Linked DNA regions of Homo sapiens: all the other regions are reported to be linked to region 3. The links are microRNA targets in miRTarBase. Many come from high-throughput screens and were not tested one by one. Region 3 holds a microRNA gene; each other region holds the end of a gene's coding sequence.
The links. The annotated mature microRNA hsa-miR-6808-5p reads CAGGCAGGGAGGUGGGACCAUG and lies in region 3 at 1,496-1,517, shown strand. An mRNA with a match to its seed (bases 2 to 7 or 8) in the 3' UTR can be bound and repressed. Matches are read on the target gene's strand: a 7mer-m8 pairs with bases 2 to 8, a 7mer-A1 pairs with bases 2 to 7 and ends in A, and an 8mer does both.

Region 1: miRTarBase lists ESS2 as a target of hsa-miR-6808-5p. Seed matches in the 3' UTR shown: 8mer at 2,069-2,076.
Region 2: miRTarBase lists FIBCD1 as a target of hsa-miR-6808-5p. Seed matches in the 3' UTR shown: 7mer-m8 at 3,521-3,527, 7mer-m8 at 2,978-2,984 and 7mer-A1 at 2,380-2,386.

The regions. Positions count from the first base shown.
Region 1 is chr22:19,130,486-19,134,485 of GRCh38, forward strand. It overlaps ESS2 (ess-2 spliceosome associated protein), which reads right to left. Exons shown (of 10, transcript NM_022719.3): 10 at 1-3,990. The coding sequence ends at 3,711. TSSK2 (testis specific serine kinase 2) reads left to right here and starts at 823. Exons shown (of 1, transcript NM_053006.5): 1 at 823-2,137. The coding sequence starts at 915. The coding sequence ends at 1,991.
Region 2 is chr9:130,900,275-130,904,274 of GRCh38, forward strand. It overlaps FIBCD1 (fibrinogen C domain containing 1), which reads right to left. Exons shown (of 7, transcript NM_032843.5): 7 at 2,166-4,000. The coding sequence ends at 3,790. Among named protein-coding and RNA genes, the nearest start is that of QRFP, 5.5 kb to the left of the region's middle.
Region 3 is chr1:1,337,053-1,341,198 of GRCh38, reverse strand. It overlaps MIR6808 (microRNA 6808), which reads left to right and starts at 1,491; the gene lies at 1,491-1,549. DVL1 (dishevelled segment polarity protein 1) reads left to right here. Exons shown (of 15, transcript NM_001330311.2): 6 at 696-789; 7 at 883-952; 8 at 1,022-1,161; 9 at 1,387-1,463; 10 at 1,550-1,617; 11 at 1,760-1,912; 12 at 2,546-2,677; 13 at 2,763-2,930; 14 at 3,016-3,222. RefSeq lists a silencer at 3,196-3,255.

The sequences.
Region 1 (4,000 bases), not on the chromosome of region 3:
GTCCGATTAAAAGGGGCCCAGTGCCTTCAAGGCCTGTCTACTGTGGTACCGGAGTGATTATTTCGATTGTATCTCCTTTACAGCTTGGTCCAGAGAGCTGCCTTAGACTATCCAATTGATCTATTCAAACAGCTGCCTGTTCCCTTAACTTGTCTTCAGATTTTGTCGACCCGAGATGGGTCCTGGCACTAGGAATGTAAAACCGTTCCTATTATTTTGGCTTGCTCCAGCAAAAGAGAAGCCCATGCAAGGCTCCTGCTGACCATGTTTCATTTCTAGCTTTGATGTCTGGGCACTGATTTCCCTAGATTTAACTATGTGCTCAATGGTAAGGCAGTGCTGTGGAAATCTGTCTGTGTAACTGGGGTGCTATGCAGGCCTGTCTGGGTGACTGTCAGGGACAACTGTCCTACCACACCAAGGACACAGCCCTGGGGGTGCTTTTCTTCATAGCCAAAGAAGCTGCAGGAAACCCACCCTAGTGGGACAAAGACCAATGCAGGGTCAGTCCCCACAGCCAGGTGATGCAAACAGGCTGGACGTGGGCCGCCTCCCCTCCAGCTTGACTTGTGACAGGGAAACCAATGCAGCAGCAGCAGGGCCACCAGAGTCCTGTCCTGGGGACAGGCTTCCTTCCAGCGGGCGGGGAGTGGGTGCTCCTGCCAGACCAGCCTGGCTTCCACGGTTCCAGAGACCCTGTTCTCCCTCAGCCCAGTCCCCGCCCCCACTCCTTGGCTTTATGAGTTCATTGGCTGAAGTCACCCGGAGACAATGCTGAGTGTTCCACCCCTGAGTCGAAGCCCAGCCCAGGGCAGCCCAGCCAGACGCCTCCGGTAGTGTAAATGAGGACAATGCCTGCTGGCCCACATGACGGGGGGATGTAGACGGCAGCGGCGCCAGTCGCTCCTGGCACCATGGACGATGCCACAGTCCTAAGGAAGAAGGGTTACATCGTAGGCATCAATCTTGGCAAGGGTTCCTACGCAAAAGTCAAATCTGCCTACTCTGAGCGCCTCAAGTTCAATGTGGCTGTCAAGATCATCGACCGCAAGAAAACACCTACTGACTTTGTGGAGAGATTCCTTCCTCGGGAGATGGACATCCTGGCAACTGTCAACCACGGCTCCATCATCAAGACTTACGAGATCTTTGAGACCTCTGACGGACGGATCTACATCATCATGGAGCTTGGCGTCCAGGGCGACCTCCTCGAGTTCATCAAGTGCCAGGGAGCCCTGCATGAGGACGTGGCACGCAAGATGTTCCGACAGCTCTCCTCCGCCGTCAAGTACTGCCACGACCTGGACATCGTCCACCGGGACCTCAAGTGCGAGAACCTTCTCCTCGACAAGGACTTCAACATCAAGCTGTCTGACTTTGGCTTCTCCAAGCGCTGCCTGCGGGACAGCAATGGGCGCATCATCCTCAGCAAGACCTTCTGCGGGTCGGCAGCATATGCAGCCCCCGAGGTGCTGCAGAGCATCCCCTACCAGCCCAAGGTGTATGACATCTGGAGCCTGGGCGTGATCCTGTACATCATGGTCTGCGGCTCCATGCCCTATGACGACTCCGACATCAGGAAGATGCTGCGTATCCAGAAGGAGCACCGTGTGGACTTCCCGCGCTCCAAGAACCTGACCTGCGAGTGCAAGGACCTCATCTACCGCATGCTGCAGCCCGACGTCAGCCAGCGGCTCCACATCGATGAGATCCTCAGCCACTCGTGGCTGCAGCCCCCCAAGCCCAAAGCCACGTCTTCTGCCTCCTTCAAGAGGGAGGGGGAGGGCAAGTACCGCGCTGAGTGCAAACTGGACACCAAGACAGGCTTGAGGCCCGACCACCGGCCCGACCACAAGCTTGGAGCCAAAACCCAGCACCGGCTGCTGGTGGTGCCCGAGAACGAGAACAGGATGGAGGACAGGCTGGCCGAGACCTCCAGGGCCAAAGACCATCACATCTCCGGAGCTGAGGTGGGGAAAGCAAGCACCTAGCATGACAATGGCCCCGTTGTGTGTGGTGGGGGTCGGGGTTGGGGGGCATGGTGCAGTCGGCCTTCACGTAAACTAAGTAGGCAGGTAGGATCTGAAGAAGGCACAGGTGCAAGTAAAATTCGTCAATTAAACCACTATTTTGATTACGTTCCATTAGCTTTCTTCCACTTAGCAGCAAAGACGTTCCTTACTGACCACCAAATAAACCACAGGGTGTGTGCAAGCATCAAGAGTGCCCAGTGAGGAGTGTTTTTCTCTGGGACTCAGCCAACCGCCCCACCTGACACACAGTGGTCTCCGGCCTAGGAGCACAGGACAGATGCTCAGGTACAGGCAGAATCACAGTGTGGCCTGGCCTTGTGGGGGACAAGAGGGCCTCTGCCAGGGTCCACCCACCAGGCCCACACTGTCTCCCTCTGACCTGGCCTTGTCCCCAATGCCCTGGGGCTGGCCAGCTCCAGTGGTCCACGACTCCCCCTGGCTTCCTGCAGTTCAGCCCCCTCTGACCTACCCCCACTCCCTCACAATCCCTCGCTCAGCATCCTCCTCTTCCTCTATTTCCTGGAGTCATGTGAGATTTCTGTCCTCAGCCCTCAAGTTCCCTGCCCTGTCCTCCAGGGGCAGCCCCAGCTGAGACCTCCCCGTGTGCCCTCCCCACCCAGTGGCTCTTCAAGCTGCTCAGCAGCCCTTGATGATGGCACACTGGCCGGTCTTTTGTGCTTCCTGCTGGGTCACCCATTGCTCCCAAAGCATGCGGCCCACTTGCTGGCCAAGTGCTCCAGGTGGTCAGCACCTAGACATGCTCCTCCCCCCTCCCTCCCCACTTCCTGGGGGCTCCCTTGGGATAACGTGCACCCTTTCCTAGGGGATAAAGCACTGAAGGCCCCACGTCCCCCACCCCTTAAGAGTCCCAGCCTGATCTGTCCAGCAACCCACTGTTATCTGGGAGCTCCTGTTGGTGGAAGTGACCAGGTGAGGCCAGGGCCAGCAGCATAAGATGGGCAGTGCCTATAGCAGAGGGGTGAGTGGGATAGTCCCACCCCATGAGCTGGAAGCCAGGTGCTGGGAGAAGGTGATAGCTGAGATCACCTGATATGCAGCCCCCACACAGTCCTATAACCAGCGCACCTCACAGCCGGCAAGCCCAGAGTGGAGGCTGCAGACCTGGGCCCAGAACCGCAGGGGAACCTAAGGGTACAACTTCCAAGGGCTCCGTTTCTCCTTCATATCCCCCCAGAGAAGCAGAAAGCACTGCAGGATGTGAGCTCAACTCAGAACACAGGTTCCGAGTGCCGCAGAAAGCAACGCCAGTCACCCGGTGCTCCCACAGCCGCCCCACCTGCAGCTTCCTCACCTGGGGGGCCCCTCGCTTCAAGCCCCGCAGTCCTGAGACGTGATGCAGGCCCCAGGGCAAGGCTAGGGCTCGTGTGGGGAGCAAGATGGAGAGGCAACCCCCCAGACTGTACCTAGGTGTTCTTTAATGACAGTTCAAGGGGCCAATTAAACAGCAAACAGCTTGGCAAGGCCCTGGGGTGTGGTGTGGGCACGAGTGCCTTGTGCCAGTCTGGCCCCAGCACAGCCCCTTTCTCCAGTGACTCCTGGTATGGTCAACAGCTTCTGGCCCAGGCCTGGGCCCCGAGAAGGCTGGAGTCCTCTGCTGGGTGTACAGCTGCCCTGCAGGCTCTGTGAAGCGTCTATGAGCCCAGCCCAGGCCTGGCTCTAAAAGAAGTCCGAAGCTTTGCGCCGGGCAGGGAGCTGCAGCAGGTTGTCCGTGATGGAGGCCGGGTCCTGTGTGAGAGGGGTGCGTGTGGCAGAGCCAGGCGCCGGTGTGCTTGTGGGGGTCTGCAGCCCACTGGCCGGGGTCTTGAGGTGGGTGGAGCGTGCTGGGGATGGTGTGTAGCTGGCCCGCAGGGCCCGGTCTGTGTACTTGCTGGCCGTCCTGCTCACAAGGCGCTGTAGGGCTGGCGACATGGCTGGGCTCAGGCCTTTGGGGGTGAGGCTGGGGTGGA
Region 2 (4,000 bases), not on the chromosome of region 3:
AGGCTTCCTCCACCAGTCGCTGTGCTGGCCCTCTGAGCTCCCTCTGCAGCCCTGGCCAGTGCTGTGTGGCCCGAGTCAGACACACCTGTCAGCGCATGAGGGGCCAACGTGGCCAGCCTTGAGCCAGAGCTCCCAACACTCCCTACAAATCCCACCGAGGCCCGACCTCAGCCCTCTGGGTTTGCCAAGTCCTGCCGGCTGCTTGGGCCACACAGTTTGGGGACATCCTTGTCTCTGAAAGCAGATGAAGAAATGGAGGCCCTGGGGAAGCCCGGTCCGCTGAGGCCAAAGCTTAGTGTCCTGTCTCCTTGTTCTGGGTTCTGTGTGTCCCCTGCTGGGTCCTCCTGCCGGTACATTGCTCCTGAAGTCACAGGACGGGTCTGCCGCTGGCCACAGGCGTTCTTTATGTCCCGTCCCCCCATCTCACACAAACGGTACCTCTCCTCTTCCTTCCCCTCCCTGGAGCCAGCGTCCTCATGGTTTGAGATGGTTCAACAATCCTCCAAATCTCTGCCTGCTCAGACACGCCCCTGGGTGACAGGGCCTCCAGAGACCCTGGCTCCCAGCTTCCAGGGCTCTGGCCCCAGCCAAGCCAGCCAGAGGCCTGTGTGGACGAGGACAGGTGGCAGGAAGGGTTAGGGGCACCAGAAGGAGGTAGGCACTGGCGATACAGCTTTTGTCCCAAAGACAAACATTATAAAACCAATTTACACGCAGCTGCAGGGGAAAGCTGTTTGAGAATGGCTCACAGCTCTGTTCCTTTGCTGTTCTCCAGCTGAATGTGCTGAGGCCACCAGCATGGAAACCAAGGTTCCTTCCATCCTCTGGACCTTGGTGCTCAGGCAGTCAGCTGCGTGGCCTTTGGTGTAACTCTCTGAGATATGTGTGAAGTTTAGGGGAAAGGAGGAAGGCCACTGGCTGAGCCACAAAACCTACCTGTGCACGTGGAGAAGCAACGGCGCAGGTGCGCTGCCTCCAGGTCCCAGTGTGGCGATGCAGAGACCCCTCCCACTCAGCTTACTCCCCTCAAGTGAAGCAGCAGGAGGAGGCTCAGTCAGGTGGCATTGTGGGATGGAGGGCTGCAGGCATCCACCCTCAAACTGGGTCCCAGGGGACGGTTTGGGGCCCGTGGGTCCCAGGCGACCCTGTGCACATGCTAGCCCTTGGCCTGGTCACTCAGCCCACAGGTCTCGAGCTGTCCCTCGCCCAGGGCTCTCCCAGCATCCCCATCCTCCTGTCTCAGATGAGAGCCATTTGCACTGGTATCAGACCGTAGGCTCTGCAGGGCTAGGGTGAGAGGGTGTGGCCCGGAGCAGGTGCGCAGGGACCGTTTTTCCCCAGTGCCAGCCTTTGAAGGTGCCCCTGGGGAGGGTGGGGCCGGTGCGCTGGCCTGGGCCCTCCCCACCATGTCAAGCTCCGTGCCCATTCAGCCGGTGCTTGGTAGGGCCATGTGCCCTCTCCTGGTCTGGGACAGGGGCCGGTGCTCTAGGGCAGTAACAGGGCTCTAGAAGGGACAGGCATCCCCAGTGCAGCCAGCCACTGAGGACAGATGCTGCCGGGACCTGGACCTGGACCACAGGCTCACAGGCCACCTGCACCTGCCCCCGGCCCCTCGCCAGGCCCCAGCCATGGTGCATCTGTTCCACAGCCAAGCCCTGGCACGAGGGCCCTGGTGCCTCCTGCTGCACCCACACATCTGTGAGTCCATTAACTTCACACTCACCAGGAGTTTGTTTGATGACACATCAGAAAGTGCTGGCACTTTCTAAGCAGTCGCTGGCGCAGTCACTGGCATGGGGAGGCTGGTAGCTCCTGCCTGGGGCCTGTCGGTGGGGGGCTCCTGGGATGAGAACTCGGGTCCCACCCAGCCCCTGCAATATGACAGGGTGCTCTGGGAACCCAGATGGTCTGGGTGGGCTCCCTTGGCTTCTAGATGGTGGGAAGAGGAGCCAAGAAGGGATTTCCCGTTGAATCTCATGTGGTCATTTTGCCCACATCTTGCCCCTTGTGGCCCCGCACCTGGCCTGCTCCAGCCACCACCCCGGCCACACTAGGCTGCCACTGCCTGATTCTTGGCTGTATCTGCGTCCAGCTGAGGACCGAGAGGGCAGGGACCAGGTCCTGTCCAGCCTGGGCCCACGGCAGAAGGAAGCGCTGCAGACATCTGCGCATGTGGATGACCTGGTGGCACTGGGACAGAGAGCCAGGTCACACGGCCTCTCCCACCAACCCCCAGTGGTGCCAAGTCAAATTTATTGTTTTTTAAGCACAAACTTCAGTGGGAGGGGAAGGGAGAACGGAACCCCACACCCCCTAGGCACCTGCCATCGGGTGTCCTTTGGAGGAAGCCACCTCCCCTCCTGCCCGAGGAGAGGCTGCTAGGCAGCTCCCCAAGGCTGACTCCAGCCCTTTCGGAGGCCCCCCATCAGGAGGCCTTGGAAAAGCCGCCCTGCATCTGGGCCTGACGTAACGCACGCGGGTCCAGGGCTGCTGAGCAGACAGCTGAGGACCCGGCTCCAGCCCTGCCCTTGTGGCTGCTGGTCCTGGGAGCCTGCGGGTCTCACCTCTGCATGTGTGCACACAAGGAGTGGGGATGACAGCGTGCTGGGTGTTGGGAGGATTCAACAAGAAAGTGTCCAGGTGGTGCCTGGTCTGGTGCCCCAGTCCCCCCGACCCCATTTGCCCGGTGAGGTGGTCCCTGTCCCTTGACCACTCGCCGGGCCGGGCCTGGCCTGGGTCCAGGTGGCCACGGTCAATGGCAAGGGTTGGCCTCCTCATGGAGACAGCCACCTCAGGGAAGGGGTCATCACCCCCAAGGCCCTCCTGGGAGGCCTCAGGACCCTGGAGTCCCTGGGAAATTGGTGGTGGGGGTTGTACAAGCCTCATCCCAGCCCTGCCTAGGCCCCAGCCCAGAAAACCAAGAGCTTCCCATTAGCGCAGTCCAGCCCCACGGTGCAGGGCCCCACCCACCTTCCAGAGGCAGGAGAAATGGGATGGCAGCCCCAGCTGCCCCAGGTAGGAGGACGGCCGGGAGCTGGGTGGGGGATGGGTTGGGCCTCATTTGAGACAGAGAGCAGGTGGGCACAGCAGGTAAGAGGACTGCAGACCCCAGGCCTGCCGGGGCACAGGGTGGGTGGCCTCCAGGGAACTGGTCTCAGCCTTGGAGCGTGGGTCCCCAAAGGCAGCAGCTCCCCATCCTGACCTCAGGGCCTGGTAGGATGGGGCCACCCAGCCCACAGCCAGGCTGAGGCCCTTGGGGGAGAGGTGGGTTCTCTGGGCACCAGGGAAACGGGGTGGGGGTTGGCATTGGGAGGGCTGGAGGATACTGGCCTCAGACCTGACCTCAGAGAGACCTGACGTTCCCCACGATCTGCTAGGAGGACTCCAGGGGTGCTGTCTGCCCCCTGCTCTCTGTCCCCATAATGCCGGGTATTTGGCCGGGCAGGGCAGAGGGTGCCTGGGGCAGACTCCACCATCCTGGCCAGGGGACGGCAAACAGCACCGGAGTCACAGTGGGGGCAGGCAGGAGTTGGGGTCGTCAAGTTTGCCAGCCCCCATCAGCAGAGGCAAGAGATCAGTGAGCTGCCAAATGGAGGGGGTGGGGACGGCGAGAAGGCGATGTGTGACTTCACCGGCCCAGGGAGCTTCGTGTCAGGGATGGCCCGGCCCCTCCCTACTGGAGAGTGGGTCCGCCAGGCACAGGTGGGTGGAGAACATTCACGAAAGAGTGAGGTGGGGTCGGGGATGGGGCGACAGGGACCAGCAGGGCCAAGGACAAGGTGCACCAGTCTAGCGGTCCTCCCGGACCGGCCGGATCTTCATCTCAGAGAACTTGAGTGAGTACTGCCAGCCGGTCCAGGAGGACCACTCCACGCCGTCGGCATAGGAGGCGTGCGCACCGCGCAGGTACTGCCCATTGAGGTTGGACGTGTGGCAGTTGCGGTACCACCAGGCACCGCGGTAGAAGGCGGCACAGTTGTTCTCTGAATGGTCGCTGTCA
Region 3 (4,146 bases):
GCGTGTGCAGATGTGCGTGTGTGCAGGTGTGCTTGTACAGGTGTATGTGAAGGTGTGCGTGCAGGTGTGCATGTGCAGGCGTGCGTGTGCAGGTGTGTGCAGGTGTGCCTGTGTGCAGGGGTGCGTGTGTGCAGGTGTGCATGTGTGTGCAGGGGTGCGTGTGTGCAGGGGTGCATTGTGCAGGGGTGCGTGTGCAGGTGAGTATGCAGGTGTGCATGTGTGCCTGTGCAGGTGTGTAGTGTGCAGGGGTGCGTGTGTGCAGGTGTGCATGCGTGTGCAGGTGTGCGTGTGTTCATGCGTGCGTGTGCAGGGGTGTGCATGTGTGCCTGTGCGCAGGGGTGCATGTGTGCAGGGTTGCGTGTGTGCAGGTGTGTGTGCAGGTGTGTGCATGTGTGCCTTGTGCAGGGGTGCGTGTGTGCAGGTGTGCATGTGTGTGCAGGTGTGCATGTGTGCAGGTGTGTCAGTAGTGGATCTGGCTACATGTGTCTGTGCCCAGTTTGCCTGTCTCTGGGATTTTCGTGTGTGCTCATATGCATATCACGTGTGCAGGGCCTGGGGCGTGGACGTCAGGCACTGAGCCTGCTTTGGAACAAGCCTGGCCTAGACCCCCGATTCCCACTCAGTATTGGGGGAGCGGGTTCCCACCCCCCTACCCATGTCTCCAGCTCCTCTGAGCTCTGACAGTCTGTTCCCAGGCTCAGCAGCTCCACGGAGCAGAGCACCTCATCCAGACTCATCCGGAAGCACAAACGCCGGCGGAGGAAGCAGCGCCTTCGGCAGGCGGACCGGGTAGGCAGCCGGGTGGAGCAGGGCGGGGCTGGGGAGGCGAAGTCAGTGTCGGGCAGCCCCGTGCCTTTTACACACGCCCCCTCTCCTCCATAGGCCTCCTCCTTCAGCAGCATAACCGACTCCACCATGTCCCTCAACATCGTCACTGTCACGCTCAACATGGGTGAGGCCTCGGGGCGAGGGTTGGGGGCAGGGGCAGGGGCTTGGCCGCGGCTCATGGCTCTTCCTGCAGAAAGACATCACTTTCTGGGCATCAGCATCGTGGGGCAGAGCAACGACCGTGGAGACGGCGGCATCTACATTGGCTCCATCATGAAGGGCGGGGCTGTGGCCGCTGACGGCCGCATCGAGCCCGGCGACATGTTGCTGCAGGTGTGTCTGTGGGGGCTGCGGGGTGACATGTAGCTGCGGGTGGGTCCGTGGGGACTTTGGGGTGACGTGCGGCTGCGGGTGGGTCTGTAGGGGCTGCTGGGGGACATGCGGCTGCGGGTGGGTCTGCGGGGGCTGCTGGGGGACATGCGGCTGTGGGTGGGTCTGCGGGGGCGGTGGACTGAGCTGCACATCCTGCCTGCACCACCCTAATCCCCACCCCTGCAGGTGAATGACGTGAACTTTGAGAACATGAGCAATGACGATGCCGTGCGGGTGCTGCGGGAGATCGTTTCCCAGACGGGGTGAGGGCTGGGGGCGCTGGAGCGGGAGGGGCCAGGCAGGGAGGTGGGACCATGGGGGCCTTGCTGTGTGACCACCGTTCCTGCAGGCCCATCAGCCTCACTGTGGCCAAGTGCTGGGACCCAACGCCCCGAAGCTACTTCACCGTCCCACGGGGTGAGTGGCCCTCGGGGCACACGGGGCGGGATGGGGAGGGGGCGCCTACCTAGCCTGAAGGCCTCTCTCCTCTGTGCCCTGCACCCTGCCCTCCCACCCTGTCCATCTGTCCGCCTGTCATCGCCACGTGGCGGCCACCCAGCTGACCCGGTGCGGCCCATCGACCCCGCCGCCTGGCTGTCCCACACGGCGGCACTGACAGGAGCCCTGCCCCGCTACGGTACGAGTCCCTGCTCCAGCGCCGTCACGCGCACCAGCTCCTCCTCACTAACCAGCTCCGTGCCTGGTGCTCCACGTAAGTGGCAGCTCCTGAGGGCCCCAGCAGAAACCGAGGCTTGGAGGGGGCGTCTCTGCCAGCCTCCAGCATGGCCGCCTGTGGCCGTCATGGGGCTGTGACACGTGTGTGTTGCCTGTCCCCAACTCCCTGCACAGACGTGTGCACAGGCACCCGTGCCCACCTTGTGCAGCCCATCCTGCTCATGGTCTGTGTGTTGGGAACAGGGGATGTACGTAGGGCCCCTATGCGGGGAGCACCCACGGCGTCAGAGGCAGGGGCCAGGTCTCCATTCTGCTTCCTGCCATTAACACGACTAACAGCCTGCGCTCTCGGGTGGGGCATGCGGGGAGGGGAAGGGGCCTGCCCTGTTCTCATTACTTCCTGGTCTGCAGGGTGGGGTGTCAGCCCAGTTTGTGCCTAGGATCCTGATGAAAAGTGTCTGTAGAAGTGGGAGACTAAATGTCCAACCCCCCTGCTCACGCCCCAGCCTCACGGGGGTGCATCCTGCAGTGGGCCGGGGCCCTGCTGTCACGCACCGTCCAGCTTGCGCCCTGGCGCAGGCTCTGCCCAGAGGCTCCCCTGGGGGTGCAGGGCCCTGAGTCCCCCGCCTTCAGATGCTGGGGCTGAAGCGGGGCTGTCTGTGCTTTGCAGAGCTGGAAGAGGCGCCGCTGACGGTGAAGAGTGACATGAGCGCCGTCGTCCGGGTCATGCAGCTGCCAGACTCGGGACTGGAGATCCGCGACCGCATGTGGCTCAAGATCACCATCGCCAATGCCGTCATCGGTGAGTGGCCGTCCCCGCGGGCGGATAGTGCCAGGGGCAGGGCTGCTTGCCTCGAGGCTGCGGGCTGACCGCTGGTGCCGGCCAGGGGCGGACGTGGTGGACTGGCTGTACACACACGTGGAGGGCTTCAAGGAGCGGCGGGAGGCCCGGAAGTACGCCAGCAGCTTGCTGAAGCACGGCTTCCTGCGGCACACGGTCAACAAGATCACCTTCTCCGAGCAGTGCTACTACGTCTTCGGGGATCTCTGCAGCAGTGAGTGGGGGCTTCGGGCTTCAGGGCGGGGGGGAGGGGAACGCCGGAGGCCCCTCCGCGGCCCTCACCTACCCTCCCCCGCCAGATCTCGCCACCCTGAACCTCAACAGTGGCTCCAGTGGGACTTCGGATCAGGACACGCTGGCCCCGCTGCCCCACCCGGCTGCCCCCTGGCCTCTGGGTCAGGGCTACCCCTACCAGTACCCGGGACCCCCACCCTGCTTCCCGCCTGCCTACCAGGACCCGGGCTTTAGCTATGGCAGCGGCAGCACCGGGAGTCAGCAGAGTGAAGGTGAGAACGCCGCCCCTACCTGCCCTTCCCCGGCTCCGCCCCCAGCTCCGCCCCACTCCACTGCTGCTCCGCCCCCAGTTCCACCCCACCCCGCTGCTGCTCCACCCCCAGCTCCACCCCACCCCGCTGCTGCTCCGCCCTGCTTCTCTGCTGACCCCAATCCCATGCTCCTGCTGTGTACTTGGGCCCTGGGTGGGCTCCTTCTGGAAAAGGCAAGTGCCAGGGGGATCCAGGAGCCAGTGTGAATGGGGAGGACAGGGAAGCGTCTCACACAGGGGCAGCCTGGACCCCACCTCATCTGGGTGGGATTGGGATGAGGGGCCTCCAGGAGCCTGGCGGCCTGGGCGGCTGTGCCTGGTAGGGGTGGCGGCTGGTGGTTCTCCTATGGTAGAGGCAGGAGGCCCTGAGACCATGTGGCCATGGGCCATGTGACAAGGACAGGGCAGGGGTGGCCAAGGAGTCTGACAGGGTCACTTTCTAGGCCCCAGGACACAGGAGGGTGGCAGCTGCAGCCCGGGTAGGGAGCCTGACGTGGATGGTGCCGTGCATCCTAGCCTTGTGCCCCTGGCTGGGGTGTGTTTAGGGGCCGGGGATCCAGAGTGTTCCTGAGGTGTTGCCTGGTGGAGCAGAGGCCCCAGTGGGTGGGGTTGGTGAGGCCAGCAGGGGCGTCTGCAGGCCAGGGAGGGGTGCAGGTGGCTTCGTGGAGGGCCCAGGAAGGAGGGCGAGAGAGGAGAGGCGGCCAGAGGGTGTGGGACCGCAGAGAAGCCACGCTGGGTGTCTACTGACCCTCGACCGGCGCTTGCGCCCACTTCAGCCCCGCCCAGCCCGCGGTCAGTCCCCACTGGTGGCGGGTGGGTGCTGGGCAGGTGCCAGGCAGCCGGGCGTGTAACTCGTGCTATCCCTTGTCTTGTGCTAAACAAGCCT